6 separate regions of the Homo sapiens genome follow, and all the other regions are reported to be linked to region 5. The links are microRNA targets in miRTarBase. Many come from high-throughput screens and were not tested one by one. Region 5 holds a microRNA gene; each other region holds the end of a gene's coding sequence.
Evidence for each region. Region 5 holds the annotated microRNA hsa-miR-4722-3p (ACCUGCCAGCACCUCCCUGCAG, at 1,517-1,538, shown strand). A microRNA usually pairs through its seed, bases 2 to 8, with sites in the 3' UTR of a target mRNA and lowers its output. Matches are read on the target gene's strand: a 7mer-m8 pairs with bases 2 to 8, a 7mer-A1 pairs with bases 2 to 7 and ends in A, and an 8mer does both.

Region 1: miRTarBase lists TAS2R5 as a target of hsa-miR-4722-3p. The part of its 3' UTR that is shown has no 7-base or 8-base seed match.
Region 2: miRTarBase lists PDCD4 as a target of hsa-miR-4722-3p. Seed matches in the 3' UTR shown: 7mer-A1 at 2,172-2,178.
Region 3: the mRNA of SLC4A4 is a reported target of hsa-miR-4722-3p. The part of its 3' UTR that is shown has no 7-base or 8-base seed match.
Region 4: the mRNA of WDR33 is a reported target of hsa-miR-4722-3p. Seed matches in the 3' UTR shown: 7mer-A1 at 548-554.
Region 6: miRTarBase lists WIPF2 as a target of hsa-miR-4722-3p. Seed matches in the 3' UTR shown: 7mer-m8 at 3,857-3,863 and 7mer-A1 at 2,097-2,103.

What each region holds. Positions count from the first base shown.
Region 1 is chr7:141,790,769-141,795,869 of GRCh38, reverse strand. TAS2R5 (taste 2 receptor member 5) reads right to left here. Exons shown (of 1, transcript NM_018980.3): 1 at 4,503-5,101. The coding sequence ends at 4,609. Among named protein-coding and RNA genes, the nearest start is that of TAS2R5, 3.1 kb to the right of the region's middle.
Region 2 is chr10:110,897,529-110,902,629 of GRCh38, forward strand. It overlaps PDCD4 (programmed cell death 4), which reads left to right. Exons shown (of 12, transcript NM_014456.5): 12 at 500-2,478. The coding sequence ends at 560. It overlaps BBIP1 (BBSome interacting protein 1), which reads right to left. Exons shown (of 4, transcript NM_001195305.3): 3 at 4,010-4,084; 4 at 1,202-2,998. The coding sequence ends at 2,832. It overlaps MIR4680 (microRNA 4680), which reads left to right and starts at 562; the gene lies at 562-627.
Region 3 is chr4:71,566,526-71,571,559 of GRCh38, reverse strand. SLC4A4 (solute carrier family 4 member 4) reads right to left here. Exons shown (of 26, transcript NM_001098484.3): 25 at 4,477-4,556; 26 at 1-3,772. The coding sequence ends at 4,513. Among named protein-coding and RNA genes, the nearest start is that of GC, 220 kb to the left of the region's middle.
Region 4 is chr2:127,702,279-127,707,379 of GRCh38, forward strand. It overlaps WDR33 (WD repeat domain 33), which reads right to left. Exons shown (of 22, transcript NM_018383.5): 22 at 1-4,274. The coding sequence ends at 4,045. It overlaps SFT2D3 (SFT2 domain containing 3), which reads left to right. Exons shown (of 1, transcript NM_032740.4): 1 at 1-2,964. Among named protein-coding and RNA genes, the nearest start is that of SFT2D3, 3.3 kb to the left of the region's middle.
Region 5 is chr16:88,712,816-88,717,815 of GRCh38, reverse strand. It overlaps MIR4722 (microRNA 4722), which reads left to right and starts at 1,479; the gene lies at 1,479-1,538. CTU2 (cytosolic thiouridylase subunit 2) reads right to left here. Exons shown (of 15, transcript NM_001012759.3): 7 at 4,911-5,000; 8 at 4,369-4,504; 9 at 4,038-4,169; 10 at 3,589-3,680; 11 at 3,330-3,433; 12 at 3,079-3,229; 13 at 2,890-2,956; 14 at 2,710-2,768; 15 at 2,420-2,634. The coding sequence ends at 2,565. PIEZO1 (piezo type mechanosensitive ion channel component 1 (Er blood group)) reads left to right here. Exons shown (of 51, transcript NM_001142864.4): 45 at 605-793; 46 at 918-1,010; 47 at 1,085-1,257; 48 at 1,333-1,455; 49 at 1,539-1,618; 50 at 1,697-1,883; 51 at 1,962-2,478. The coding sequence ends at 2,211.
Region 6 is chr17:40,277,374-40,282,474 of GRCh38, reverse strand. WIPF2 (WAS/WASL interacting protein family member 2) reads right to left here. Exons shown (of 8, transcript NM_133264.5): 8 at 1-4,290. The coding sequence ends at 4,250. Among named protein-coding and RNA genes, the nearest start is that of CDC6, 8.0 kb to the left of the region's middle. RefSeq lists enhancers at 1-492, 493-1,429.

The DNA.
Region 1 (5,101 bases), not on the chromosome of region 5:
ATTAATTCTTCAAATATTTCATTCCTTGTGCTTATTTTTTCCATCTCCTTCTGGGGCTCCAATCACACCTATGAGTGTCCTTTTATTTCTGTGTGCCATATTGCTTTGCTTTTAAATTTCCCATCACTTTATTACTTTGCCATATCTCCTGCGAGAGTTCTAGAGCTGGCCTTCCAGTGCATCAATTCCACACCAGGAGCTGTACCCATTCTGCTGCTTAATTCAATGGTGGAATAATTTATTTCACCTAATTTAAAAGTGCATATTTCAGAAGCCAAAGGGAAACCAGGCTTTTCCTCACCCCAGGGCCTGTCAGCTAGGTTAGGCCTGTGATCTAGAATCAGCCAGCCAAAAATCCCACCCAGGATGGCTCGAAGAGACACAGTCTCAGAGGCAGTGGCAGTGTCAAGAACACAATGTTAACAGCTGAACAGGAGAGGTGGTGCCAGCATCAGTCCCTGTAGTGTGACTTGATTGTGTTCTTGTTTATTTAACCCCTCTTGGTTCCCATTCTGAGGTTGACTCTCCAGCCTTCTCCCTGGTTCTATAATCTAGCCAATTTCCTTTTGATAAGTGTACTTTCTCCTGAAGTCATATGAAGTTGTTTATAACTGATACCACAGGTGACAGGAGTTGGGATATGGGAGAAGTGCAGGACTGGTGAAGCACTAATTTCTTCCTCCTACATAATCGGGACTCTGTGGATACTGTCATAAGGCATGGTTCAAAAAAGCAGTGTAGAAAATATATTACTTACAATTGTAAAAGTAATGACTGTTAGAACAACAAAATAAAACTAATCAATTTAGGAGAGGAAAATGGATTAGGGGCAAAATGAGATAATCCCCAAACCTTGATGAATGGAACTCAAAGGCTACAGTTTAAAGCTGATAAAACAAGTAAGAGAGCCAAAATCTTACCATTCAGAGTCGTAAAAAATAACCACTAAAAGAACTAACACAAGTGATAAGATACCATTATATCCAGGCAGTGGGACTAATAATAGAAGGTGGGAGGGAAAAACGTTGCTGTTCATTTTCTACCTTTCTGTCCTGTTCAAATCGTTTTTAGCCATGCTCACATATCACATTTTTAACATTTCACGTCTCCTCTCGGCTACACCACCACAGAGCATATCACATAATTAAATGTAAGGCCATTAACATCTACACACACACACACACACACACACACACGCACACATGGATCCAGCTGCAACTCTAAGAATGCAAATTATAAAAGATTCAATTACATAGGAATCAATTCAAGAGTATATATTTGCCTTCCCATTTGTTTTCTTTGCTAAAACACAAAGCAGTCTCATACGCATCATAAGGTAAATTGTGTACAGAAAAAGAAGGAAATCAAATCCCAAAAGGTGATGTGGAAAATGCAATAATTTTTCCTGCTTTATTGAGGAATGATTGACAAAAATGGTATATATCTACAGTATGCAACATGATGTTTTGACATATGTATACACTGTGAAATGAGTACCACAATCAAGTTAATATATCCACCACCTCACAATTATCTTTGTTGTTGTTGTTAGTGAAAACATTTAACATCTACTCTCTTCACAAATTTCAAGTATATAATACGGTTCTATTAACTATAGTCACTATGCTGTACATTAGCTCTCCAGAGCTTATTCATTCTTCCTAACAGACACCAAACATCTCCCTATTTCCCCCACGTCCCAGGCCCTGGCAACCACCATCCTACTCTGCTTCTGTGAGTTTGGCTTTTTGAAATTCCACACATCTGTGAGATCTTACAGTATTTGTCTTTCTGTATGTGGCTTATTTCAGTTAGCATAATGGTCCTCCTGGTTCATCCACATTTTTTCAAATGACAAGATTTCCTTCTTTTTTAAAGCTGAATAATATTCCATTGTGTGTGTGTATACATATATACACATACATATGTATACTACATTTTTTTATCTGTTCAAATGTTCAAATGTGATATTTGAGCATGGCTAAAAACAATTTGAACAGTACAGAAAAGTAGAAAATGAAACAGATACACATACATGCATACACTACATTTTCCTTATCTGTTCATGTGTTGATGGACACTTAGGTTGATTCCATACCTTGTCACTAAGAAAAGCAGATCATAAACTTTGATCTGTTGTGATTTTGGATCTTAGCACCCAGGCATCCCATCAATACCAAATTTGAAAGATTAGTTGCTTATTGCATGTGTGTAAAAATACTCATAAACTTGAGGGAAGTTCCACAGGCTAATCCTAGTTTGAAGTCTTACAAGTATGAACAATGAGATACTTAGGATTTACTGGAAAGAGCACAAGACTCGGAGTCAAAAAATTTGGGTCTGCTCCATCTGCATTATTTACAAGTTCATGATCCTGGGCAAACCATCACTCCAGCCTGAGTTTTGTCACCTGTGAATTGGGGATAAAATTGGTTACTGCATAGAGTTGCTATTAAAATCAAATGAGATAATGGACTATATATGAGATTGTCTGGTAAAATGTAAAGCCCAATACAAATGTTAAATACTATTGTCACTATTACAACAATTGGTCACAAAGGACATCTGTAAAAAAAATAGAAATGGTATAATGAAAATTCATCCTACTAACAAAAATATAACCAAGCAGAAGCACCTTTCTATTTAAAAAGAATGAATATGATCCTTCCCAGGACATAAAATATGGTACTTGACCTCACACAACTCACAGTGACAGTGGAACCAATCTCCCCCTGTGTGATGACTAATATCCACATGTGCCTAGCATGTACCTCAATTCTCAGATTCAGGTAAGAAAAAGATATGTTTGAGAGAATAGATTAATGAAAGTAGATTAGTGTGATCCATAGGAAGTGAAAAAAAAATATTTAAGAATGCCAAGTGTTGTCCTTTGGATTTCAGATCCCCCTGGAACTGAAACAAAGAAGGCTAGAAAGAAGGAAGAGAATAAGTTGTGTAGAAGGGTCTGTAGAAAGAGGCATGGGGTTCCAAGGAGGGAAGGACATTAGGAAAGTAGCATGTTGTAAAGGAAAGAGCCCTGCACCAGGAGTCAAGAAACAGCTCTAGTCCCAGCACTGCCACAGGCTCTCTATGAAACCCAGGGCAGGCCACTGCCCCTCTCTGGGCATCAGTTTCTCTACCTACAATACAAAGGAGGCATTGTAAAACCAGTTAGCACAGCTATTCAGTCATTTACAAAATATTTATTAAGCGTTTATTATGCAATAGGCAGTGTTCTAGTCACAGAGACGTGGGAGAAAATAAAAACAGACACAGTTCCTACTGCCATGGATCTGGCATTCTAAATGATCTCCCTCCAACTCAAAGACCTGGCACACTAGAACTCTGACTGTAGGCTGTGGTGAGGCCACAGTAGACAGGCAAAATGGCTAAATGACTGAAGAGCAGACAGCGTGACCTCTTCAAAGGCAGTCTATTTTTTTTAAGCAGAATCAAGTGCCCCTCATTCTCATATTGCCCCACTTCAGTTCCTGGGCCTTGGAGCTTAATACAGATCATGGCATCCAACTGACTTTTATTCTGCTTTTTTTTTTTTTTTTGAGACGGCATCTCGCTCTGTTGCCCAGGCTGGAGTGCAGTGGCATGGTCTCGGCTCACTGCCATCTCCACCTCCTGGGTTCATGCCATTCTCCCGCCTCAGCCTCCCGAGTAGCTGGGACTACAGGTGCCCGCCAACACACCAGGCTAATTTTTTGTATTTTTAGTAGAGATGGGGTTTAATCATGTTAGCCAGGATGGTCTTGATCTCTTTTTTTTTTTTTTTTTGAGACGGAGTCCCGCTCTGTCGCCCAGGCCGGACTGCGGACTGCAGTGGCGCAATCTCGGCTCACTGCAAGCTCCGCTTCCCGGGTTCACGCCATTCTCCTGCCTCAGCCTCCCGAGTAGCTGGGACTACAGGCGCCCGCCACCGCGCCCGGCTAATTTGGTCTTGATCTCTTGACCTCGTGATCCGCCCGCCTCAGCCTCCCAAAGCGCTGGGATTACAGGCGTGAGCCTGATTTTTATTCTGAAAGCCAAGGCTAGGGCTCAAAGAAACTTCCAGAAATATAAAGATGTTTTGTTTTGTTTTTCAGTTAGATAATTAGATACATTACAGCAGAGAAATGGGGAAATTATTTGATACTTTTTAAAAAGCATATCTAAAATGACTAACATTAATGTATAGGTAAAATTTCATAAAAATTAATGATCACTATAATTGTTCCTAATCTCTGTTTTCTATACTAGGAAAAACACAATTTATATATGAATTTTTGCTATATGTAGACAGAATTGTTCCTAATCTCTGCTTTTTATAATAGGAAAAACACGATTTATATATGAATTATTTGCTATATGTAGAGAGAATATAATACCTCTTTTACCAAACATGAAGCCCTAGCCTTGATTTCTGTGGTACATTAAAAAAATATACTTTGCATTGCCAAAAGAGACATAGTATTGGGTTTTGATCCGTATTTTCTGTTGCTCATTCATTACATTGGTGTAAAAGAAGGAAAATCTTAAAAGACATGGAAAGCAGCTCCCTTATAGAGAGCTATCAAAAGAGCGTCCCAAGAGTGTCCTGACCACACTTTTCTTCCCAGATCATGGGCCCCAGCATCTCCGAGCACACACTGTCTTCCACAGGATCTTCTGACAAGTCTGCTTCACCCTAGGAATCCCCATGATCAATATGAGAGAATGAAGAGAAGGATAGGCTGCCATGAGTGTCTCCCAGATGAAGACACTGGTGAGATCAGGAGGATAAGTCTTGGAGGTGATGGAGAAGGGGCTGGCCATGATATAAACCAGGTGAAGTAAGAGGAAGCAGCCCAAGGACTTCAGCGCAGTGATGTGAGCCTTGGCCCGGACATCCCTCCTACCAGCTGAATGGACCTTCATCTTCTTGTGGTGTGTATACAAAGAGACAATCAGCATCCCAGAGGAAACAAGAAACACCACTAAAGGCAAATAACTTCCTGAATTGAGCTGAAATGCATACAGGTACTGCCAGCTTTCAAAGGGATACCGAATGCTGCTGTTTCCTTGGGGAGGATGATAGAATGTTAAGCCAATTTGGACTGTAAGTAACAAATTG
Region 2 (5,101 bases), not on the chromosome of region 5:
TGGGGCATAGGCTGTAATTCTGATTTTTTTCCACATTCAAGTTATGGCTTTTCTACAGTTGATAAAACATTTTTTTTTAAATTGCCAAACATGGATATTTTGATAGGTTGCACAGCTCCAGTTTGCATAATTCTGAATTATGTTAGTGTTTCCTATTTGGCTTACTGTTAAGCTTACAAATAATAATTAGAAATTAATTAGAAATAATTTTAAATTTCTAAATAAAATGTTTTAGTTTGAGTCAACTTTTTTTAATGTGACTCTGTTTGGATAGTGAACTTATTAAAACAAAAACTCAGATTTGATATTGATGTTTTATGCTAAGATATATAGTAGGGAGTCTTTTCCAAAGGAATTAGAGGCATGCTTTTTTTTTTTAATGGAAAACCCTTTAAAAGCTAACACGTAACGAAAAAATACCAAGTTTTTAATTTTTTTATATATTGACTATAGTCAGAATTTGTATCTGTTTTCATGTCTTTTTTTTTCTTCATTACAGGGGCAGAAAGCGTTTTGTAAGCGAAGGAGATGGAGGTCGTCTTAAACCAGAGAGCTACTGAATATAAGAACTCTTGCAGTCTTAGATGTTATAAAAATATATATCTGAATTGTAAGAGTTGTTAGCACAAGTTTTTTTTTTTTTTTTTTTTAAGCACTTGTTTTGGGTACAAGGCATTTCTGACATTTTATAAACCTACATTTAAGGGGAATTTTTAAAGGAAATGTTTTTTCTTTTTTTTTTGTTTTTCGAGGGGGCAAGGAGGGACAGAAAAGTAACCTCTTCTTAAGTGGAATATTCTAATAAGCTACCTTTTGTAAGTGCCATGTTTATTATCTAATCATTCCAAGTTTTGCATTGATGTCTGACTGCCACTCCTTTCTTTCAAGGACAGTGTTTTTTGTAGTAAAATCACTGGTTTATACAAAGCTTTATTTAGGGGGTAAAGTTAAGCTGCTAAAACCCCATGTTGGCTGCTGCTGTTGAGATACTGTGCTTTGGGAGTAAAAAAAGAAAGTTATTTCTTTGTCTTAAAGAATTTTTAAAAAATTAGTCATGAGACTTATTCATCTTTCCAGGGAACATACTGATTGGTCTTAAAAGACTAGACAGTTAAGTAAAAGGTGGCTGGAACATCTATTTTTCTACAAAACTGGAAAAATGAACCTGGTTCTAGAAGAATGTACACCAAAATAAAACATGTGAAGCAGTATTGATTCTTTATTGGGAGTACATTTTTTTAGGTCTCTTAAACTTTAATTTCACACAGTAAATTTTGAATCTCATAAGGAAGCATATTTGAACCTAGTCAATTTAATCTTAGTGTTCCCTTGAAAACTTTTTTTCCCTACAAAATTTTAAGTGAAAAATACAATAGTAAATTAAGATTACACTGGGGAAAAAAATGCAGGTATCACTTTACTCCATTGTTATCTGACCTAGAGCTTAATTAAGTTTTAGAAATATGTAATACCTTCCATCATTCCATCATCCTTAAATTCTGTTACCAAATAATGGCTAATGTTACAAAAAGTTATACTCCAGAGACCCAAAGCTTGACATTTACCTAATGTATGAGAAAATATTACCAATTAACAATAAAGAATGATCATATTTTTAACCTCTTTTACATAGCCTAATAACTCAGCAAGGCCTCAACGTCTGTGCTAATTTAAACTGCCAAATATTGACTGCAGCAAACAAGAATTATATTCAGAATTTATGAGGGTACTGTTAGGAGTATACTGCTTACAGGTTTAGATATAGTCTGTTAGAATTAAAACCAAGTTTAGTGTTCATATTTACCTCATGGGCTTTATCAAGCCCATATTACCTCAGCTTATATATAGTTACCATTTTTAGGTTTTTAATTGTTTGACACTTGGATGATAAATGCAGTCATTTTATTCTCAAGTGCTTAAAATTAATGTAATTAAAAGCTTAGCTGACTACAGAATAGGTGAGGGTTTCTTAAAAATGAGATTTAAGGGCTGGGCACGGTGGCTCATGCCTGTAATCCCAGCACTTTGGGAGGCCGAGGTGGGCGGATCACTTGAGGTTGGGAGTTCATGACCAGCTTGACCAACATGAAGAAACCCTGTCTCTATTAAAAATACAAAAGTAGCCAGGCATGGTGGCGCATGCGTGTAATCCCAGCTACTTGGGAGGCTGAGGCAGGAGAATTGCTTGAACCTGGGAGGCAGAGGTTGCAGTGAGTCGAGATGGTGCCATTGCTCTCGTTTGGGCAACAAGAGTGAAACTCTTGTCTCAAAAAAAAAAAAAAATGAGGTTTAAGACAGTTTTGTCATTACTGGTGGGATCTGGTCACACAAGATAGCATTAAACGTGACATGGCACATAAAATTGGTTAAAAAATTTTGTTTTTTAATTACGTAATGTAAAAGCCCAACAAACACTTTATGCAAGATTGGAATGTATCTTCAAATTCAGATTTAATAAACATGTAAAGATCCTCTGTATATAAAAGTTGTATTTAATCCCTTGTGCCCAAGAATGCTATAAAAGATCCCAAGAATGTTATCTATAAAAGATAGCAATAGGAATGGTGAACAAATAATTTAATTTGCAATTCTAAAAACATGACTTAAACCCCATAAAACTTGGTTCATAGTTTAACTGTTTATGTTCAATACAAACCAGAGTGTTTACATTCACAATACAAATTTCATCAATCTTGGATATTTTTGTATTTCTATGAATACTATCAATTTTATTGATAACACATACTACTTTCAGCACACAGAAGCATATTTTCTAGTTATTGTTAAATAGTAGATAAGGCAGGTTGTTCCCTAAAGTGCTCAGTTATCATTCAGTGGGTTATTTGCCGTTGATCCTTTTCTGCCATTTCTTGTTGGCGAATTGTATTCTGTGCTGCTTGATGCATTTTCTCTAGTTTTTCCAGAGTCAGAGATTTTAAGGGTAAAAGTTTGGGTTTACACAGCACCATTGTCATTATATCTTCCACAAACAGTGGCCCTAAGTTTAACAAGAAATAAGAATTAATTCAAGAAAGATAACCCAGTTGTTTGTAGTTGGATTTGCAGCTAGAATGAAGGTCTAAAAAATTAATCTCTTGTCACTGAAAAACTCTTGTACCTAAATTGAGTTTTGCTCTGGAACCAGAAAGATCATTGTCATTCTATAAGCGCATTTCTTACTAGTAGGGTGCTTCTGAGGAAGACAAGTTTTGAGCGTTCTACCCAAGAATCTATGCTACCATAAGACACAACTTTTTGTGTCAGAAGTTTAATCTTAAAATAAGATTTGGCAGAATATATATATACATAGTGCAAAAAAATATAGCAAAATATGATATTTAACGTAAATATTCAAATGACTGAAGGTTTAAACCTTCGGCTTTTCTTACTGTTGCTTCAGGTTTCTCTTTCTCCACTTTCAGACCTTATTTAACATAGTAAATTCCATTATTTCTTTCACTGAAGTTTCATATTGAGTAGGGCATGGTAGCTCTTACCTGTTATCCCAGCACTTTGGGATGCCAAAGGGGTTGGATTGTTTGTTTGAGCCCAGGGGTTTGAGACCAGCCTAGGCAACACATTGAGATCCCTTCTCTACAAAAATAAGAACAAATTAGCCAGGCATGGTAGCACATGCCTGTAGTACTAGCAAATCAGTAGGCTAGGGCAGGAGCCCAGTAGTTCAAGGCTGCGGTGAGCTACGGTTGTGCCAGCTGTACCCAAGCCTGGGTGGCAGAGTGACAACCTGTCTCTTAAAAAAAATTCATATTGTAATTAGGAATTTTAGGAATTAGCTAATTAATAGGCAATTTTAGGTATAAGAAACAATGTTTCATTTGTTATCCTTTTACTGGATGTCATGAAAAAGCATATAGTAAAAGACAGTAAATGAGATAATACGGAACACAATAGCTGCAGATGTTTAGCTATTAAGCCTGCTATGTGACACTGCCTATGACTTCTTTAGTCCTGTAATAATCAATGACCTCAATATTTGTGATGTACATACCTTGCTTTGGAAGAACTTCCCGGAACATTGACTTCACTTCTGCCATATCTGAGTTGTTGGATATAGTGTTTTTTCCTTCAATGAGAAATCAGTATTATTCAAGAATACATTCCCAAAGCAGACTGCCTGAGACATTTCCATTGTAGTTTAAGAAGTAAAATCCAAATTCCTATAGAAAGTGAACTACCCTAACCTTGTATAATATTGCCATTAATTTCCTGTGACCTTGGGATAGTTTGTATAAGCATTTAGATCTTGTCAACTTCCATTAGTCAGTTGTGGTGTTAACTACAAGGCTAGGTGTTGTAATTTTTTTTCTCTCATAGTGAAAACTTGGTAGAGCTTCAGTTTTTAAGGCAAAGATGATTAATATCATCTGAGGAAAAGGTATTTGTGTGTAGCCAGCGTGGTTCGTTGATAGCATCTCCCCTGAATGGTGGGTGACAAAAAACATGACCACCATTTGATGGGGGTGGTGAGGCAGGTAGTTAGGAAAAGTAGGAACTGGCAGGCTAACATTTCCTAAGATTCCTACTTGTCTCAACGGCCAACAGCTGGTTTCTACTTTGTGTCTAACAAAAAGAATCCTATGGATGACTGACTACACAGCTGCAATTGGTAACGAAGTAATACAATAGGTGAAATTGGCTCTTGCAGAACAGAAATAGAGTTTCAGTTTACTATTTTCCTCTAATACCGAGATTCTATATGCGAAAGGACCAACAATATTTAACTATTTGTTATGAACATCCCAGCATATATGCCATTTTTGCCAGTGACATTTGCTCCAAGTATTACAGTCAAGATTCTGCTATGCTGTGTGTTCAAGGTGTTCTGGACTAAGCTGTAGAATGATCCCTTTCCAAACACAGATGCTTTTCTAGACGGTCCCACCCACTCAGTGATTCACCTTGCTGATGCAACCTTACCATGCATCTTTCACAACATCACCCCCACAGATTTATTATTTATAAAGTGGTGAATCTGGCTTGGTGCCTGCCTTTACCAACCACTGCAAATTAATTATAATCAAGTGAAGCTTCTTCTGGTTTTTGTTATTCCCGCTCCACTACTTTGACATTCCTAATAAAA
Region 3 (5,034 bases), not on the chromosome of region 5:
AAATGAGCCAGGAAATTGGACATATCTAAATCTCTGGCCAAAACACAACTTGACTGGTTGGCGTATTACACAACTTTTTTAAAATTTCAGGCTGCAATGAAGCTCAATGAAATCATCTGAAAACTCATGGCCTTTCAGATAGTGAGGTGCTACAAAATATCACTTGATTGTACCCAGCCATTTGGTGCCACTGGGCTTCATGCTCATGCTGTGAAGAGCAAATGTGAAATATCATGAAATATAAATCAGAAAATCTCAGGTTCCTGCACCAAAATCATTAAGTAGTATGAAAAGGATTGAAGAAGGCTTTGTCCCATCCCTGAACAATGTCAACCTCTGTAATACAACTCAAATTATTTCATTTTGTTTTTAAAATATAGTCAGCAGTCAATACATTTCAAGTACTTTAACACAGTTAAAAAAGGAACCAAAAAACTCGGAAGACAATCATTCTCTATTAAACACCAGTATACAGTTGATAAAAGATTTACTCTGTATGGGTTGGTGCATGAGCATAAAATACACGCAAACTGAATTACAGACAGCAGACAACTGTTTTTCCTCCTCTCTTGGAGGTGGAAGGCTGAGGAGAGAGGTTTTTGTTTTCCTACTTCTTAAGTCAGTTAAGTCCTCTCCCCAGCCCCACTCCTCAACCTTGATTGGGAGAAGAGGCAGGGACATTACTGCCCCTGGCACACAAAACAATTAGAATTCCAAGTATTCATTTCACACAGTAGAGAAGATGACTTTTATCAAGGAAAACAGTGCGTCCAAGATACTTTTCTCCCAAACACAAAACCAGAGGCATTTTTGCTCTTTTGATAAGGCAGACACTTGACTTAGTCATCTCTTTTCTTCCAACAGTGTTTCTGCAACCACAGCCAGGACTTTCTGGTTAACAACTCTGAGCGTACTTTGTCTTTATCTTTTGAATCCTTTATCTCCGGAAGTCACATCATGGAGAAGGGAGAAGCACTTATAAAAAAATTTACTGTTGTAATTTGTGTCCAGTTTGCATAGAAACAAAACCACCACCAAATCTGGTTCATTCTTAGTCAATGGGTAAATTCAGTTAAAATACCGATAATTTGGTGTCACTAGGTAAACCTCAGGTTTTGCTTGTTAGTTTGGTTAACTACTTCTGTTCCTTTGAAAGTAATGACATTTTTAAAAACTTCCCTGGGTTCCCAGAATATTGAAAGGATTTGATATTAACTGTCTGTTTAGCAAATGTAAGGTACTATTCTGTGTTCATGTCATAAATATCAATATGGATCATAAACAGAAGTACACATAGGTTTTACCTCTACTCAGAGGCTGAAATGATGAGTTAAGTTGCTTCAGGAGTTCTTTGAAAGGTATAGAGAGGGGCATGAAACCACAGATACTTGATTCATGATCAGAAAAGAAAGTTTTATCTAGAGCTTTTATAAAACAAAAGTACCTTTAACTTAAGAAGATCACGGGTTAAGCTGAATTTACTATACATGGTTTTTAAACAATTTATTGATGCTTCCATGCATAAAGAAAAAAGGAAAGTCTTCTTATACCAGTTTATATTAGGGTAATAGAAAGCTAGATAATATAGACTCATCATTTTAAGGATAGCCCTAAATACAAATGTGAAGCCAGAATTTGGCAAGTGAGGTTTTAACACAATAACATATAATTCACCACTATTATTTTAATGAAAAAATTGGGGTCATTATTGACTAATTTGTATAAGTTAAAAGTTTTAGGAGTATCAGGTACTGTAAAAGTAACAGCTAACTCAGGATAATAAAATTTTTGTAATCAAAATTACAAGGAGACAGAATAATAACTTAATTAACATAACAATGAGTGGGAGTCAATAAGTGCATATTATCAAACCAAAAAATGTGGTTTCATTCTGCTTCTAGTATACCCCTCAACAACTGGTTATAGTTAGGATATATCACAGTTGTGGTTATATGAATCTGAAATTATAATTTTAACATTTAAAATGTTTTTTTAGTATACATTCACAATATGTAATGTATCATATTAAAAATATTACCTTTAAATACCACGTTAAATTTGGTTAATAAATGTCTAATTTTCAGTGTGGTACTTTGAAATATACATACATATAATATGTACACAAATATATTCTAAATGTCCCGCTTACAAAGAATAATTGCCTTTGCATCCTGAAAAAAATTGCATGAGAGTACTGTTACACTGTACTCTGCAGCTCTGCAATCCCATTACATTTTATAGATGTGTAAATGGGCTATTAATACTCCTATGAATTTTATATTGCATGTTAGAGCTATTATATCAATTATAATGACTGATACCTGGGAAATAAACTATATTTACCCTCATTTTCATATGGACAGACTTCTTGGACCCTTAATGGATTTTTTCATATGTGGTTTGGGTTTTATGAAAACTGGCATAAGAGATTCAATGACTTTGCCCTCTGCCTACCATCACTCTTTTGCCTTCTAACATTGCACATATATACACCAGCCATGGCACAGAGCACATACACAAACACACAAATATTTCAAAATGAGAAAATGTCTAACAATACTGCATAGGACATTGACGTGGTAATACAACCAGCATCTGTACCTAGATGCTACTATTATCAGAACATCGGTTATTCTCATGACATAGGAGTTTGTCTCTTCTCCCTCAATCTCCTTCATAGAACAGTTAAGTTTCTTTTAAAGAAAGGGAAAAATGGATGCTTAGAAACATGGTGTTTTTAATCTGATCTTGCCTTCTGGCTTACCCTAGAGATTGTGTATTTGTGTGTGTATGTATGTGTAAAAATCACATTATATACAATACAATTTTTACAGAAAGCCTGGCAGCTACAAATAAGAGGTAGAACTACTCAAAACTATGTTTCCTGCTGCAGGAAAAAATTCATTTTCTTTACAGTAATTAAAAAAAAGTTTTAAAAATTGACAAAAAATAAGTGGCAGGTTAGGCCCCATAATTTAAACAACAAAATCTAGGAAGAAAAATATTCTTCAATGTACTCAACAGATAAGTTCATTAAAGGGTTAAAAAAAGTTGCATAGGAAAAAAGGGACATTCCAGCACTTGCTACAATGATGGCAATGGTTTCTCTATAGGGAGTAAAGTACCTTCAGTTTTTTCTTCTTTTGATAACTCTAAGATTAGGATTTACAAGCAAGAGCAAGTTAAAATAGCAGCACTTTTTCCAGTCCTGGAGAGCTCTATAAGTGAGAAGGGACTCTGTCTGGAGGTCAAGGTTTGTTCTACCAGACAAAGACAAGCCAGTAAGCACAGCTCCAAAGCTAAAGTTTTAAGTTCCTTCAACATTTTCATAAAAGGTGTTACAAAATCCTTAATACTTCCATCCTCTGCTTAATAGAGGCAAAGGACAGGGTCTGTGCGTGTCTGTGTCTTGAGTGACAGAATTTGGTTATCAAAGGACACATCTGAAAGTTTAAGAACAAAAGGGGGATTCCTCAGATGCTGTTTTTAAGGAACGGTGCACTATTGTCTTGATTGTGTCTATGCAAGAGAGAAGCAGAGAGAGCGCTGTATTATTTGGCCTGTGACCAAAAACTGAGACGAAATAAAAGTTAAAAAATAAACAAACAGCCAAACAAAAACAAATGACATTAACAACAAATGTCAGTTTTAAGAAAGACAAACAGGTTACAATGTAGTTTCTGTTCCCTTGCTCCTCCAGAAATAATCATTGTCTTCAGGTTCAAGTTCTATTCTAATTTGAGGCACAACTTTTACTGGAGTTCTAGGAGGACTAGAGAAAAAGGAAAAAAAAAAGTAGTAAGTAAATCAGATTTCCTTCATCATCTGTCAAATGTTTATGCATTGTATAGAAGTCAAATGTGTCCTTCTTTGTTCTCTTTTAATATTTATATTCTCTTTGTGTATTAAAAACAAACATTTTAAATGGGATGAAGGTTACCAGCAGAGTCAAGAAATTCAAGTAAAAAAATTCATAAGATCTCATACCTAGATTAAATTAATAAAAACAACAAACACAAAAGGAAAAGAGGTACTACCAGGTGGGTAATGCTGTCAGAAATTAAAGGACAAAAAGACTGACATAATAAAAACATTCAGAGATTTCAGAAAATCAAGTAGAATCTGAAATCCCTAGAACTTCATTAAGAGGGAAAGAAACCACTGGAGAAGAACTGTCAGAAAGTGCCAGTTACCTCTTTAAATCAGGGACGATACTGAAATTAAAAGAGCTAATGTTGATCCTGGGTTGTAACTTAATGATACTGAAAGATTCCATTATTTGTAATAGTAACTAGGTCTCTTAGAATGCTTTCTACTAGTAAAAGCTGGAACAAGTTTTGGTCACTGGGTAATTTATTTAAGATAAATAATAGAGACGAAGGAGAACAAGAAGTTCTGTCAATAACCCACCATTAACTACATTTCTGTGGGGCAATTATCCCACAGAAAAACATAAAATACTGGGCTCTCCTTTACCTTGGCATACCGAGTGACTGAAGGAAAGGAATTTTATCAGCATGATGTGTGGCGTTCAAGGAATGTTGGTGATCTTTCTCCTGGAAAATAAAATTTTTTAAAAACATAAATGGTAGATCTTTGGTGAAGTATAAAACAAAAATCTTCACAAAATTGATGCATCTTCCATAACTGGTAAGAGTAAAAAAGACAAGTTTAGGCATTTCAATAAACAAGGTATTAAGCTAAGACTCTAGTGTGATGAAGACAAAATCACTTCATCTCTTTTACTTTAGGTTTTCTGGGATGGATCACTGTTGTCTTGTCAGTGAGAAGGATAAGAAGCAAATCATTTTTAGAGGGTGATAGCATTCTCTTAATGCCTAAGGCTTGCTTTTGGATTTCCTTCCATCTTCAGTATTCCTAGGTTTGCCTGCTGTTGTTCATAAGGAAAAAAAGATTTTTTTTTTTGAGGCACTTACTCATACTGCAACACTACTTCTATCAGTTTTGTTCTTTCATCATGGATTATAAAGATAAACATGACATTAGGAAACATTTCAGGCAAAATGCTCAAGT
Region 4 (5,101 bases), not on the chromosome of region 5:
CGAAGGCCCTGCCCTAACAGCCTGCGAGTCTAATCCGGGAGCGGCTGCTGCCAGCGGAGGCGACAGCAGCGTTGGGAGCTCCTCGATGTCAGCTTTTTGTGCTGGACTTGGCACACGCTCTGAAAACTGAGATTTTGTCATTGAACTGGTGACAGGATGTGAGACGGTTATTAGAAGTTGCTTTCGAAGTAACTGTGGTCTTAGGTTCGGCTGAGTAAAGAAAAAGGATTTTTCTTCGAGTTAGCTGCTCTTGTGATTTTTCTCAGGCTGTTTTGTCATTTTAAAATCCAGTGGTAGATGTAGCTTAGCGACGGTAGTTTTTTGTTTTGGCTATACTAAGACTTGGAAATTATTCTCTCCAGTGTCAGCGAATCCAGAAGGGTATCAGATTAAACACCGAATTCAGCCACTGGACTTTTAAAAGTACTTAAGATGGTTTATCTCGGGTTTTTTCTTCAGTTAACAAAATCATAAATATGGTGCCTTATAACATGAAAGGAAAATTAGTTGTGTATTTCACGACGAAAGCGACGGACCAAAAGAAATTTCCTGCCCCAAGAAGCATGGGATCCAGGAAGGGGCGCGTAGATGCTTAACGGTCTCTTCGGAAATCCTGCAAATAGAAAGATAATTCTAGATCCGGAATACCTGTATCTGGTGGAAACCATGGATTTCTACAAGCTCGAATTATTCCTCATTGTATAGCCTGCTTTGTAAACTAGTTTACAATTTGCAGGCTGATCTTAAGATTTTTTTATATCTAATTGCTGCTGCCTTCATTTTAGGTTCAGCAGTTACTTTTAACTACCTTAATTTATTGCCAGAAGGTATGAGCCTAACATTCTGATGAGTCCAGAAAACTACGTTTTGTCAGTAGCAATACACTAGGAAGTAAAATATATTTAGAATTTAAACATTGTGTGCCAGTGGTCCTCGCGCTTGACTGCACATCAGTTACTTGAAGAGCCACACCTCAGATCAATGCAGTCAGAACCTGGGAAGTAGGTCCCAGACATCAGGACCTTTTTAAAGCTCCCCAAGTGATTCTACGTTCCCCAAGTTTGAGGACCACTTTTCTGTGCATTGGCTTGCACAATTTGAAAGTAATGCTTTTCCTGAGCTGGATCCCAGTGTTGCCTTAACAGGGTGTCTGTCGTGCCGCAGTAGAGCACTGCTGCTTCCTCCAACCCCAAAATTTATGTTCCTAAGTAAGTCAGGTCCCTAAGCCCCGTCCCAAGAAGTGACACAAGTGGCCAACATCCACACTGTAGGCTTGCAGGCTACCCGCCCTGAGATTTGGTAAAGAACACTGCCTTGTTCCCCATCAGTAAACAAGGTTACCTACCTCAGGAGGCTGCTTGTGAGAGAGCAAATGCAGTATCTTCAGAATGATTTATTTTTTTAATTAATTGTAAAGACTTGTGCCATTGGCTGCTCTTTCTAGTCCCCTAAATTTCTGTTCTAGTTTTAAATTTCTCTAGAACTTGCAATAGTTGGGGGTTTTATAATGATGTTTTACAATGTTTATTTCTTAAATAAAAACTTAAAAATTCAACATTTCTCAGCTGGTGGCTCACACCTGTAATCCCAGCATTTTGGGAGGCCAAGGCGGGAGGATCACTTGAGGCCAGGAGTTCAAGACCAGCCTGGGCAACACAGTTAAACCCCATCGCCACAGAAAATCTTCAAAAAATTTGCCAGATATGGTGGCACACAACTGTGATCCCAGCTACTTGGGGTGGGGCTGAGGTGGGAAGATCACTTGAGCCCAGGAGGTTGAGGCTGCAGTGAACTGTGATCACACCACTGCACCACAGCCTAGGCAACAGCGAGACCTTGTCTCAAAAATTTTTTCTCAAATCAAACATCATTGAAAATCTACTTTTTATAAGCTTCAAATCACAACATCTAGTATGTATGCTGACAGTGATGTTTTTAAATGCCATATATATTTAATAAGTATAATGTAGAGGTTTATTGTTTAAATGAATTCACTCTCAAAATGTGATCTGTCAAGTCCAGTAGAGCTTCAAGGTAAAATGAAAATTTTTAAATGTGATCTGGTTATCTGCTTACTGAGATACTATGTTTCTAAAGTTAAAGCCCAAAATAATGAAAATTTTTCCACTAGAATCTCAGGGAAAAAAAGTCTAATCTTGATATGGGTTTGGTCTCTGGATCCGGTTTTAGCTTCATGAAATTTGATTACAGTTTCTCTCTCTTTAAGCTATACCAGTTGGGGGTGAGTGAAGAAATACCCATAACCTAAAGCAATCTTGAGCCTCCTAATAGCATGTTTATGGTGGAGCGCTGATTAAATAAGCTGTAATTTCAAAGTTAAAAAAAAAATAGTCTCTAGATTCTAACACTGAAAAGCAGTGTATATGGCTGACATTTTCTCACTCCACAGAAATCAATTAGCTTTTGCTGTTTTTTACATTCATAGAGAACCAGTTAAATTTTCATATCCTGTTAAACTATATCAGTATGCCTTTTCTAAGCAACCATTGAAACTTCCAGCACCAGCGGCCAGGTACTGTGGCTCAGATCTGCAATCCCAGCACTTTGGGAGGCCACAGCAGGTGGACCGCTTGAGCCCAGGAGTTTGAAACCAGCATAGACAAAGTGGTGAAACTCCATCTCTACAAAAAACACACACACAAAAAATTAGCTGGGCATGGTGGCATATGCCTGTAGTCCTAGCTACTAGGGAGGCTGAGGCAGGGTCAAAGCTGAAGTGAGCCGTGATTGCACCACTGCACTCCTGGCTGGGTGACAGAGCAAGACTCTGTCAAAAAAGGAAAAGAAAAAAAGAAACTTCCAGCACCACTAAATTTGCCAAATAAATTTGACTGATGCCAAAACTGAAGCTGCCAATGTAATGAAATGTTAAGGTGGCCATAGGACAGTCCTTTTAATAAAAGCTTCCATGTAAAACCAAAATAAAGGTCAGTATAGAAAGTATCATGGGGTATATAACAAACTGAATTTTTGGCTTCCAATCCAAACTGGGCTAAATGGTATGTTTATTTTAAACAAGGAATTTGCCATGGACAAGATCTATCTGGCTTACTGTGAGTTAGAAGTACGCCCTGCCGTAACACTGGTATTTCCACATAGTATGGAAGAGGAAGAGAGGAAAACTTAATTAAGTGTTGCAAAATTGTTTGAGGACCTATTTTGGTCCATTCCTTATCAACTCCATGTGTGATTTCAAGTTATCTAAAGGGCATGTGACTTTATTTCTGACTAACATCAAGTTCCTCTCCTCATCATAACAAGGCGATTCAAACCTAAACTGTGATTCTTAGGAGATGCTTCCAAGGGGAAGCTCCCTCGTTGGACATCCAGAAGATTGCATTTTCTCTTCAGAGTACAATTTTCCATCTGTCAGAGCATGTCTGAATAAAAATTTGAACCTACTACAAACTACATTAGAATAATTTTCAAGTATTTTTCTGTCACAAAAATGGTGTGACAGAATGTGTTGAAAAACACAAAGTTCACAGCTGAGATTAATTTAGATAACCTAGTGGTTAATATGCTCATGAACATCAGCAACAACCGTGCATTCCTTGGCAGATGGGATGCGATGGAAACCAAAGGTTTCCTTAAGGCAAGCACTTCACAACTAGTTTTCTGTCAATTCTTGCGTAAATCACATTCTGTATTCATACAAAAACTTTGTTTTTCTCTGACAAACTGTACACATAGAAACAAATTTCCAAATGGACAGGAACTTAAATTTGTGGAGATGCCCCATGTCTTGTGAGACTTAAAAAAAAGAAAAAGATCCCAGCTTTTATCTTCACAAAACAACATGGGAGTTGGGGCAATGAGGGTGGACAGGACAGGGCCAGCCAGGCTGGTAGCTGGCAGCAGTCTCTTCATCTTGAAGACCTCATTGAGGGTTCCTGGGATTCAGGTGCCCAGAAAAGAGTTCAGGGCTACAATGGTGCAGGCTTCCTTTTGTTTCTCTTGGTGAGTCCACAAGAAGTTCTTACATACTGTCCAGAGAGGCCTCAGGGTACTCAGTTCCAGCTTCTACCGACCCCTTCCACCACCCCGTGAAGCTCCTCGCCTCGGCGGGCCAGAGTTCATGTTACTCCCTCTACCCCAGTTACTGCCACTCCGGCCCCCTCGAGAAGGGGTGCCACTGCCTGGAGGGCCCCCAAAAGGTTCATCTCTGTGGTATCCATCGTGGTGCTCTCCGTCTAAGGAGCTGGAACGCCCAGATTTGGGCACTCTCTGAGCAGGTCCTGGGCCCCCTCGGCCTGAAACAAAGAAAATTTCACATGGGACTTTTTGTATTAGCAACTGTTTGTCAGTAACTCCCAGTACAAACTTTACTCTCTGATGACAATGGACCAGTTCTGGTGGGTGCCAGGGAGACTGGCAGTGGTATTCAGCGTACTGAGAGGTGTGCCTCTACCCTTTCCTGACCCTGCCTCCCCCTTCCTGGCTCATGGCCATGGGCCTCAGCATCAGCCAGATCCATGCCCCCAGGGCTGTGTGACAGACGACAGGAAGCCAAGAGATGAGCAAGGAGCACCTTCAGGGAGACCCGGGCCACACTGGGCCATGTCCCAGGCCATGGGAAGTGTATCTGCCTGCTCCCAGCCACCAGGGTATATTGAGGGAAGGTTTGAATATACTGACTTAACTTTGGAAGTACACACTGCTAATGTTAATAAAAAGTGCTCCAACTAGGACAAGCGTTCACTGGGACTGTCCCGTGACATGTGGCACTTTTGGCTTCCTTTTCATAATTAGTAAAATAAAGTATTTCTTGAAAAAACAAAAGAAAAGCACAAAAACCCAAAAACCCCACAAAACACTGGCTTTCAGGTTCTATCACCGAGGCACAGCTTAACCTGCTTCAGACTAGTATGCACAAATGTTTAGGTACTATTAAAATTCTTTCATTCTGTTGCAGCTTGAGAATATATTTAAAAAAAAAAAAAAAAGAAAAAAAAGAAAGGAAAAGGAAAAAAAATTCTATCTTGTAAGATTTTTTTCCTCAGGAAATGATAGGATTTGGTCACATCTCCCATAATGCACTCTCAGAAGATGACTGCAAACTCTCCGCTGTCTCATATTT
Region 5 (5,000 bases):
TCTGCAGATACATTGGCTAGAAATGACTGAATTGGAAGAATTCTCTGTATTCTCTGGTTGCTAGAACCTTATCAATTAAAATTTGCAGAAAATTTCTCCAATTCTATGGACTGTCTCTTAAATTTTCTTGGTGTCTTTGGAAGCACAAAGTATTTATTTTGGTAATATCTGGTTTACTTTGTTTCCTTCGCCAAATCCAGGTTCATGAAGATTTGCCCGTTTTCTTCTAAAAGTTCTATAGTTTTAGCTCTGAAGTTTCGCTCTTTGATCCACTTTGAGGTAAATTTTGGCACATGGTATGAGGCAGGAGTTGCGTTTCATTCTCCTGCCTGGGGCGGTGCCTGCACCGTGTTGAAAAAGGTTGTCCGTTCCCACTGAACGGTCACAGCTCCCTTGTCTAAGATCAACGACCCCTGAACATGAGGGTTCCAACTGGACTCTTAGTTCTACTCCACTGGCCTGTGTCTGCCCACCATTACTACCGCTGTGCCATACTGAGGTCAGGCTGGGGCTTTTCTGGGCTGCTGGGTGAGCTGGAGAATGCGGTTGTGTGACCCGCAGGAAGGGCAGAGCTGAGCGTATGACCTGTGTCGTTCCCCTCCAGAAATACCCGCAGCCCAAAGGGCAGAAGAAGAAGAAGATCGTCAAGTACGGCATGGGTGGCCTCATCATCCTCTTCCTCATCGCCATCATCTGGTTCCCACTGCTCTTCATGTCGCTGGTGCGCTCCGTGGTTGGGGTTGTCAACCAGCCCATCGATGTCACCGTCACCCTGAAGCTGGGCGGCTATGAGGTGAGCATGTGTGGGTCCGCCTGTCCATTCCCATCCCCTGGGGGTTCTGGCCAAGGTGGTGCACCACCCCCAGCCGCTCCTCCACGCTCATCTTCGTGGCCCCGTGTCCCCGTGCCTGCCCCAGCCGCTGTTCACCATGAGCGCCCAGCAGCCGTCCATCATCCCCTTCACGGCCCAGGCCTATGAGGAGCTGTCCCGGCAGTTTGACCCCCAGCCGGTAAGTGGCCTCTGCCCTGTGAAAGCTGGTGTGGGGAGGCGGCTGCAGTCACTGAGGGTGTCACTTGTACCCAGCTGGCCATGCAGTTCATCAGCCAGTACAGCCCTGAGGACATCGTCACGGCGCAGATTGAGGGCAGCTCCGGGGCGCTGTGGCGCATCAGTCCCCCCAGCCGTGCCCAGATGAAGCGGGAGCTCTACAACGGCACGGCCGACATCACCCTGCGCTTCACCTGGAACTTCCAGAGGTTCGTCCTGGACTTGGGGCAGTGCCTGGGTGGGTGGACCCACTACAGTGGGTCACGCTGTGTTCCCACCCCCAGGGACCTGGCGAAGGGAGGCACTGTGGAGTATGCCAACGAGAAGCACATGCTGGCCCTGGCCCCCAACAGCACTGCACGGCGGCAGCTGGCCAGCCTGCTCGAGGGCACCTCGGACCAGTCTGTGTGAGTGAAGGGCCCGGGTGGTGGGCAGGAGGGCTGTGCCAGGTTGGCTGGGCCAGGCCTGACCTGCCAGCACCTCCCTGCAGGGTCATCCCTAATCTCTTCCCCAAGTACATCCGTGCCCCCAACGGGCCCGAAGCCAACCCTGTGAAGCAGCTGCAGCCCAGTGAGTATGGGCGTGGGGGTTGGGGGAGGCTAGAGAGGGGTGACCTGCGGCCTCAACGATCTTCTCCCTCCATCCCAGATGAGGAGGCCGACTACCTCGGCGTGCGTATCCAGCTGCGGAGGGAGCAGGGTGCGGGGGCCACCGGCTTCCTCGAATGGTGGGTCATCGAGCTGCAGGAGTGCCGGACCGACTGCAACCTGCTGCCCATGGTCATTTTCAGTGACAAGGTCAGCCCACCGAGCCTCGGCTTCCTGGCTGGCTACGGGTGAGTGAGTGGCTGGGGGGGCACCCCGCAGCTCGGGGGGCTCCGGGCGGCCCCAGGACTCACCAGCTTCCCCCGCAGCATCATGGGGCTGTACGTGTCCATCGTGCTGGTCATCGGCAAGTTCGTGCGCGGATTCTTCAGCGAGATCTCGCACTCCATTATGTTCGAGGAGCTGCCGTGCGTGGACCGCATCCTCAAGCTCTGCCAGGACATCTTCCTGGTGCGGGAGACTCGGGAGCTGGAGCTGGAGGAGGAGTTGTACGCCAAGCTCATCTTCCTCTACCGCTCACCGGAGACCATGATCAAGTGGACTCGTGAGAAGGAGTAGGAGCTGCTGCTGGCGCCCGAGAGGGAAGGAGCCGGCCTGCTGGGCAGCGTGGCCACAAGGGGCGGCACTCCTCAGGCCGGGGGAGCCACTGCCCCGTCCAAGGCCGCCAGCTGTGATGCATCCTCCCGGCCTGCCTGAGCCCTGATGCTGCTGTCAGAGAAGGACACTGCGTCCCCACGGCCTGCGTGGCGCTGCCGTCCCCCACGTGTACTGTAGAGTTTTTTTTTTAATTAAAAAATGTTTTATTTATACAAATGGACAATCAGAGGCCAGTCCCCCGTCCTTGCCTTCCGGCTCCAGTGTGGTGTACCAGGTGGCCACTGCCTGCTGTCCCGGCAAGCACGTCCTCACGCTCAGCTCTGGCCCGCCTCGTCGTCACTGTCCTCAATCAGACAGTCCCGGATCTCCTGCAAGCCCCAGGCCCTAGAGAGAAAGCTGCAGTGGGCACCAGCCCCGAGGCCCCTTACCCACGCGCCACGGCAGTGTGGGCCCCAGTACCTCTGTGTGCGGAGCTGGGCCTCAGCCAGGATGTACGGCGGCAGGGGGTCCAGTGAGGGCTGCAACAGAGGCCGGTGTCGAGGGGCCAAGAAACCTGCCAGCACCCCCTCAAGCCACCCACGAGGTGACGGCCTTCCCGCGTCCCCAAGCCCGGCCCAGGACAGGTGGGCACGTACTCACCAAGTCCTTCATGTTCACGCGGCAGCTGTAGCACAGCTGCTCCTCAATGCAGGCTTGGGGGTCCTCCCTGCGGGAGCAGAGCTGGCTGTGTGCCCACCTTGGCACCTCAATGCCGTGCAGTGTGGGGTAAGGACAGGTCCCCCTCCCGCCCCATGCAGCTGGCCATGGGTGGCAGGGACAGGGACTCACCTCCTGCAGGCCCCCTGGCCACAGCGCTGGGCCCAGCCCACCCCTGGAGAACAGCAGGGCCCCGGGGGTGTCCGGGTCTCAGTCAGGGGGATGGGTGACTGCATCTGGGAGAGACGCGAGGAGGTCTGAGCCCCAAAAGCCGTGGCACTGTCTGCAAGCAGAGAGGGGGTGACGGAGCCTGGGGCTGCTGAGCCCCCACACCCACTCCCTGGCTCCCTCCCCGCATCACCCCAAGAGCATGAAACACAGACCAGCGGCGTCGACGTCCAGGGCACACATGCAGAGGAGGCAGCGGGGGCCGGAGTCGCCAGCAGCAGGGCCATCCCGGGGGCCCTTCACCAGCTTCTCACTTGTCCTGTGGCCGGATTGTGGGAGGAGCAGGTGAATCACACGGGCTGGGGCTCCACCCTAAGCCCTGGCCTGAGCACGAGTGGTGAGCTCACCACCCGCACACACCCGCGCACAGCACACACCCGCGCACCCCCCGCACACACCCACACACACCCACACCTGTACACAGTGCTGACAGTGGAGGGGAACTGGGTCTGCAGCCTGAGGATGAAGGCCTCCATCAGCCGGTGGATGCTGGCCTTTTCAGGGGCCTAGGGACAATCAGATTGGAGGCTATGGGAAAGCCCAGAGGCCAGCCCCAGGCTGGGGCAGAGTCCCCAGGACAGGTGCCGTGGGTTCCACGCTGCTGGCCCACATGGGTCTGGCTTTGCTGCGACTGCTCAAGGCAGCCAGAGAACCCGCTTCAGCAGTGCACCCACTGTGGGGTCCTCCTGTCACCCCCACACCCTCACGGCACAGGGTGGGCTCAGAGGATGCAGCACTGCTGGGGGCCACAGCAGGAGTCACTGAAGGTGTGCTGGTGACCTGAGCCTGTGAGAGGCTGCCCAGCCCACATGGCCCACCCCGGTGTCAATGGTGAGAGAGGTTGCCCAGCCCACAAGGCCCACCTTGGTGTCGACGGCTGGTGTGAAGACAGAAGGAACGGAGAACAGGCGGTTGTAGAAAGCGACCTCCTTCAGGGTGTGGTCCCGCATGGGCCGCACCACCACCACGTCCCCGTGCCGCTCATCCGAGAAGCCCTGCGGGAGGCAGGGGCTGTGTGGTCCAGGTCAAGGCCCGAATGTGCTTGCCCCTCCTCCCCTGCCAGGTAGGGGAGGTCACAGACCCCACCACCATCCGAGGCCGCAGGACTGATACGCGAGAGGCTACTCTCCAGTAAAGGTGGCCGAAGGGGTGAAGGTGAGGATGGGCCTCCTGAACACCCAGGCCCCTGCCTACCGTATCCCAGGCCAGGAAGGCCCCTCGACCCAGCGCCAGGTTGGTCATGAGCTTGATAGCCAAGCGTGTGCAGCTGTCCCCAGTCATGACCTTGGAGTAGCCGTGGGCTCGGGCCATGTGGAGGATCAGGTGGGTCCTAAAGCACAGAGCGTCTCAGGGGCCTGGGGGGTGCAGGACCCGGGGAAGGGGGGCTCTCGGGTATGAGTGGGGGTCAGGGCCCGGGGAAGGGGGGCTCTCAGGGGTATGAGTGGGGGTCAGGGCCCGGGGAAGGGGGGCTCTCAGGTATGAGTGGGGGTCAGGGCCCGGGGAAGGGGGGCTCTCAGGGGCATGAGTGGGGGTCAGGGCCCGGGGAAGGGGGCTCTCGGGCATGAGTGGGGGTCAGGGCCCGGGGAAGGGGGGCTCTCAGGGGCATGAGTGGGGGTCAGGGCCCGGGGAAGGGGGGCTCTCAGGGGCATGAGTGGGGGTCAGGGCCCGGGGAAGGGGGCTCTCAGGGGCATGAGTGGGGGTCAGGGCCCGGGGAAGGGGGGCTCTCGGGGCCTCACCGCAGGGTCTGCAGAAGCTCCTCCTTGGCAGTCAGTGTCCTCACTGAGCAGAACAGTTGGGAAAGAGCCTCAGTCTGGGCAGGGGCAGGC
Region 6 (5,101 bases), not on the chromosome of region 5:
ACACACACGCACACGCGTGCGCACGCACACGTGTCATTCTAGTCATTTATTCAGTGTTGACTGTGACTTCCATGGAGGGCACCATGAGAAAGGAAAAGATTAGACATGTGAAAAGAAGGCTAGGCCCCATCTTGCCACCAGTGGAATGAGATTTAAGACCACTAGAGAAGGAACCCACTAAATTGCCAGAAACAAGAGTAGAAAGAAACAGCAGTTATCAAGGAAGATTTTAATTGCTTCAAAGAGGGAAAGGAAGAAAGCACAGAAATCTAATGCAAGTAAAGGCACAATGAATGTGGAGTTGAATGGAACCAAACCCTTCCTTCGGTTAAAGTTATCCTTTTTTTTTTTTTTTTTTTTTTTGCGTGTGGTTTTGATGGTGGTTGTAGTTTTGTTTCGTTTTGTTTTTAAGAGATGAGTCTTGAAGGCAGAGTTGTAATGGCCCTCCTCTCTCCCCTCCCATTCCCGAAATTAGGGTAGCTTAACAGAAAGCCACCTTGACCACATGGCCAGGGACTGAGATTCAATGGGGAAAGAAAGACTGTAGCTGGAATGTGAAGAATTTGATTTGCAGTTGATTGCAGGTTGGGTTTCCGGAAGGGCAGACAGCTCAATGTAGTGCCATCATAGGGCCTCAGATGCCCACACTCCACCCCCAGAGCTTCACAAAATGGAAGGACCCTGGAGTCACCCTTCTCCCCCACCCCCATAAGCACTCAGCCTACAGATTATTTCAAGTGATCAGGAGAATTAAAACACACCCCAACCCTGAGTTGCTCTTTAGCAAGTCTATTTACAATTTTTTTCTCACCTCTCCCTGGAGGTAAATCTGGGTTTCAAGTTGGGAAGCCATGGGGTGAGGGAGTTCCCCAGTGCAATGGCCGATGACGAGTATCCTTGCCACTGCCAGTTAACAGGGCTGGGATGAGCTCCTGTAGACAGCAGCCTCACATCCATCAGCTAGGGTAGCCCTAGGTTCTCACTCTGTTGGCCTACGCTGTGAAAATGATGGGGCTCTGCAGTGGAGCAAATCCCCATGACAGAGAAAATCACACCTGGAATATCAAAGTGCTTTGGTCCAGGTTCAGTGACCAGAGAAGAGGAAGAGGGGCATCTAGCTCATTTAAAAACCTGGAGGTTTGCCCTGCTTCCCAGACAGGGCAGTAAGAAACAACTATAACGTTTTTCCCATTAGGGAAAAACATCACAAAACCAAACCCATAGAAGGGCTTTTAACACAGCTTCCTGATGCTTAGCTGGGCAATGTCTCTTCCTTCTGTGGGGGGACAAGGGAGTTAATGGGACTGGGCAACAGCCTCAACATGAGACCACCCAATCTTCCACGAAAGAGACGACATTCCCACAAGCAGATAAAAAGAGCAGTTTAAAAGGTGAGGAGTTTTAGTGCTCTTGTAGCCAGCCCACCTTAAACCTAAATTAGAAGCTTTTTACAACATACAAAATAGACTGATAACTATGCAGATCACATTCCCATCTTCAATAGTAAATATACATAGTAATAAATCTATTATTAACAGTGGGACCAAATAACATATAAGGCAGACATTTAAACAGGTGTTGTATCATCAACATGCTCTAAAAAAAACTCATCTGACTAGATCTAGACCCAGGCCTTTTTGCATGAGGCCAAGACAACAAGTATACAATCAATACCCATGTGACACAGTCCAAGTGCTGGGGAATATGAGGGGGCAGTGGGCCATGGGGAGGAAGATATCAGCCCCAGTGAAAAGCTGGGGTTTGGCTTTACTCGTGATATTTTGATGCTCTATGTCTGAGTAAAGGAGGAAAAAAAAAAAAACACTTTGATAACGTACAAAAGGCATCGACTCCCATTTCAAAAATAAATGGGAAGACTTCACAGTCAAAGTTCAGTCACTTGTCAGTATCTGCCCTGGAACTCTGATGCAGTATCAACTCTTGTACTCTCTCCTTTTCCCTCCACTAGCATGCCCTCTCTCAGTTGTTTGGTTTGTTTGTTTTCTGAGATGGAGTTTCACTCTGTCACCCGGGCTGGAGCGCAGTGGCGCCATCTCCACTCACTGCAACCTCCACCTCCTGGATTCAAGCGATTCTCCTGCCTCAGCCTCCCCAGTAGCTGGGACTACAGGCACATGCCACCACGCCCAGATAATTTTTGTGTTTTTAGTGGAGACGGGGTTTCACCATGTTGGACAGGCTGGTCTCGAACTTCTGACCTCAGGTGATCCGCCCGCCTCGGCCTCCCAAATTGCTGAGATTACAGGCATAAGCCACAGCGCCCGGCAGTTCTGTTTGCTTCAGGATGCTAGGGATACTTCTGGGAGATAACTGCTAACAGATTAGAAAGAAGAATGATACATAAAAAATGATTAGGAAAAGTTTGGTGACAGACCTAATCATGGTCTGTCCCAGAGTTAATATGGTCCAGGGGATGGCAAAGGACAGCAGACCCCATACACATTACCCCCGTTGAGCCCTCCCTCACCTAGCACTGGGGAGACTTGGGTTTCACCTGGCACCATGCACAGATCCCTAGCCTGTGATCCAATCAACTGGAAAGGTCTCTAAGACAGTTTAAGCCTGTGATGTGTGTGATTAAATTTTTTTTTTTTTTTTTTTTTTGAGACGGAGTCTGGCTCTGTCGCCCAGGCTGGAGTGCAGTGGCGCAATCTCGTGATTAAATTTTTAAGCTAATTTTCCCCATCCATTTCAAAGAGTAGCCATGGTCTCCTTGCTCTCATGCCACGCTCTGAGCACCCTCTACACATAGCAACAGTTGTAGAAAACCAAAGCATCTGGTGTGTGGAGCCCAAGAGCCCCATCCTGCTGTCGGAAAAAAAGAAGTCCTCATCCAATCAGCTTCCTACCTAGACTGGGGACCTCCATTTTCTCTGTGCTCTTTAGGACCCGGAAGACAAAGAAACAACCTATGGCTGGCTGCCAAGGAAGATCTACTGAACTGAGGCAAATCTCAACAAAGTCTTTGTGCTTCCTGGCATAGAAGAGTATCTGAATATCTTCATAAGCCTCTGCTCACTTCTTCACCCTTCTGTACTCTGCTGTGTTAAACCGTGCAGTCCTGGGAAGGCAAGGGTGGTAGAGAAAGGAACAGGAAGAGTCTGCTCAGTCAGGTGGGCTGTGAACTTCAGTACAGGCAGGACTTAAAAGTCCTTTGCAGCCCCACAAAGCCAGCTCCTTCCATGAGGGGCTTCAACCTGCCCTTCTTTGTTATCCTGGAGCACCTTCCAGGGGCTGAAGGACAGAAAGAGCCACTGACAACTTCAGGGCCAGTCAGAAAAGACTGAGGCAGACACAAGATTGAGGTTAAGGCCCAGGCCCACGCCCTATCTTCCTATCTCCCACCAGAGGTTTTTGGGGTTTGTGAATCAGGAATGAATGATGCCCTCCACAAAAAGTGACTTTTCTTTCAAGGGCATGGGCGGTAAGGGGGAGGAAAAACATCCCTCAGCCTAGCACCCTGAAGCAGTGGGGTGAGGGGTCCCAGAGGGTTCAAATGGCTCCTGTTCCCTTTGCTGCAGAGAACTGACTAGTTCTAAAATGGTCTTCAGTTTATTTCACCCTTTCTTTTTATTAAATGTTAAGTTCAACTGATTAGTATTTAGTGTTTATATCCAATTTATCCCTGGGGTGGTGGGGTGGGGGGGCAGCAGGTGAGAACAAAAACAAAATACCCCCAAAAATAAAGCAGACCCAATTCCTTGCCCTTTCTCCAAATATGACCTTTAAAACAGATCACTTCTTGGCAAACTCCTTTCTTGCTTCACTAAAAATGCTCCCCTCCCACCCATAAGTCCTGGTCATGCCAGCCTCCTAAATGATGAAATATAATATACCTGCCAAGCTTCCCCCACAGTGGACAGGAGAAGGAAGGAGTACCATTCTCCACCCTGCCCTAACAGTGAGTTAATTCATCACAACAAGGCACCTTTCCCCAAGAGGAAGGCAGAAGACACGGAAACTTGTTCCTCATGTGGCTAGCAGGGCTTGCTGGAGGAAGGATGGATGCAGGGTTTGAGATCCTACTGTCAATATAGAGTCTGATCACCAAATCCAGAGATGAGATGCATAGATGGAGGTGAGCTGGGAGGACATTTGGAGTCTAGGGCTTGATTGCATTGGAGAAACATGTTAGGAGCTCTCATGCAGGTTTCAGGGGAATGGAAGGGACCATCTGAGAAGAAGAGAAGGTCCATCCTTTTCCTGAGGAACGGGACCAAGCCAGGCTTCACCTGAGAATGGGTGGCAGAGGTGGGGCTCCACGGGCAGCTGAAAAAAAACAAAATAAAGACCACACACATACAGGTCACCCACCAGAATCTGAACAACCCACACATTCCTAAAATGAGAGACAGGCTCTTTAAGCTAACCTTTAAAATCTGGGGACTACGTGTTATTATTGTTTTGCCTAAGAAAATGAAGATGAGTGGCCAGGCAAGGTGGCTCACGCCTGTAATCCCAGCACTTTGGGAGGCCGAGGCGGGCGGATCACCTGAGGTCAGGAGTTTCAGACCAGCCTGGCCAACCAGGCAAAACCCAGTCTCTACTAAAATTACAAAAATAATCCGGCATGGTGGCACACGCCTATAATCCTAGATACTTGGGAGGCTTAAGCAGGAGAATCACTTGAACCTGGGAGGCAGAGGTTTGGGGTGAGCCGAGATGGCACCACTGCACTCCAGCCTGGGTGACGATAGGGAGACCCTATCTCAAAAAAAAAAAAAAAAAAAGGACAACGAAGATGATGAGAAGCAATTTTTTTTCTTTTTTTTTGAGACGGAGTCTCCCTCTGTCACCCAGGCTGGAGTACAGTAGCGTGATCTTGGCTCACTGCAACCTCCGCCTCCTGGGTTTAAACAGTTCTCCTGCCTCAGCCTCCCGAGTAGCTGGGACTACAGGTGTGTGCCACCACGCCCAGCTAATCTTTTGTATTTTTAGTAGAGACGGGGTTTCACCGTGTTAGCTAGGATGGTCTTGATCTCCCGACCTCATGATCCGCCCACCTCAGCCTCCCAAAATGCTGGGATTATAGGCATAAGCCACCGCGCCCAGCCTAATTTTGTATTTTTAGTAGAGACAG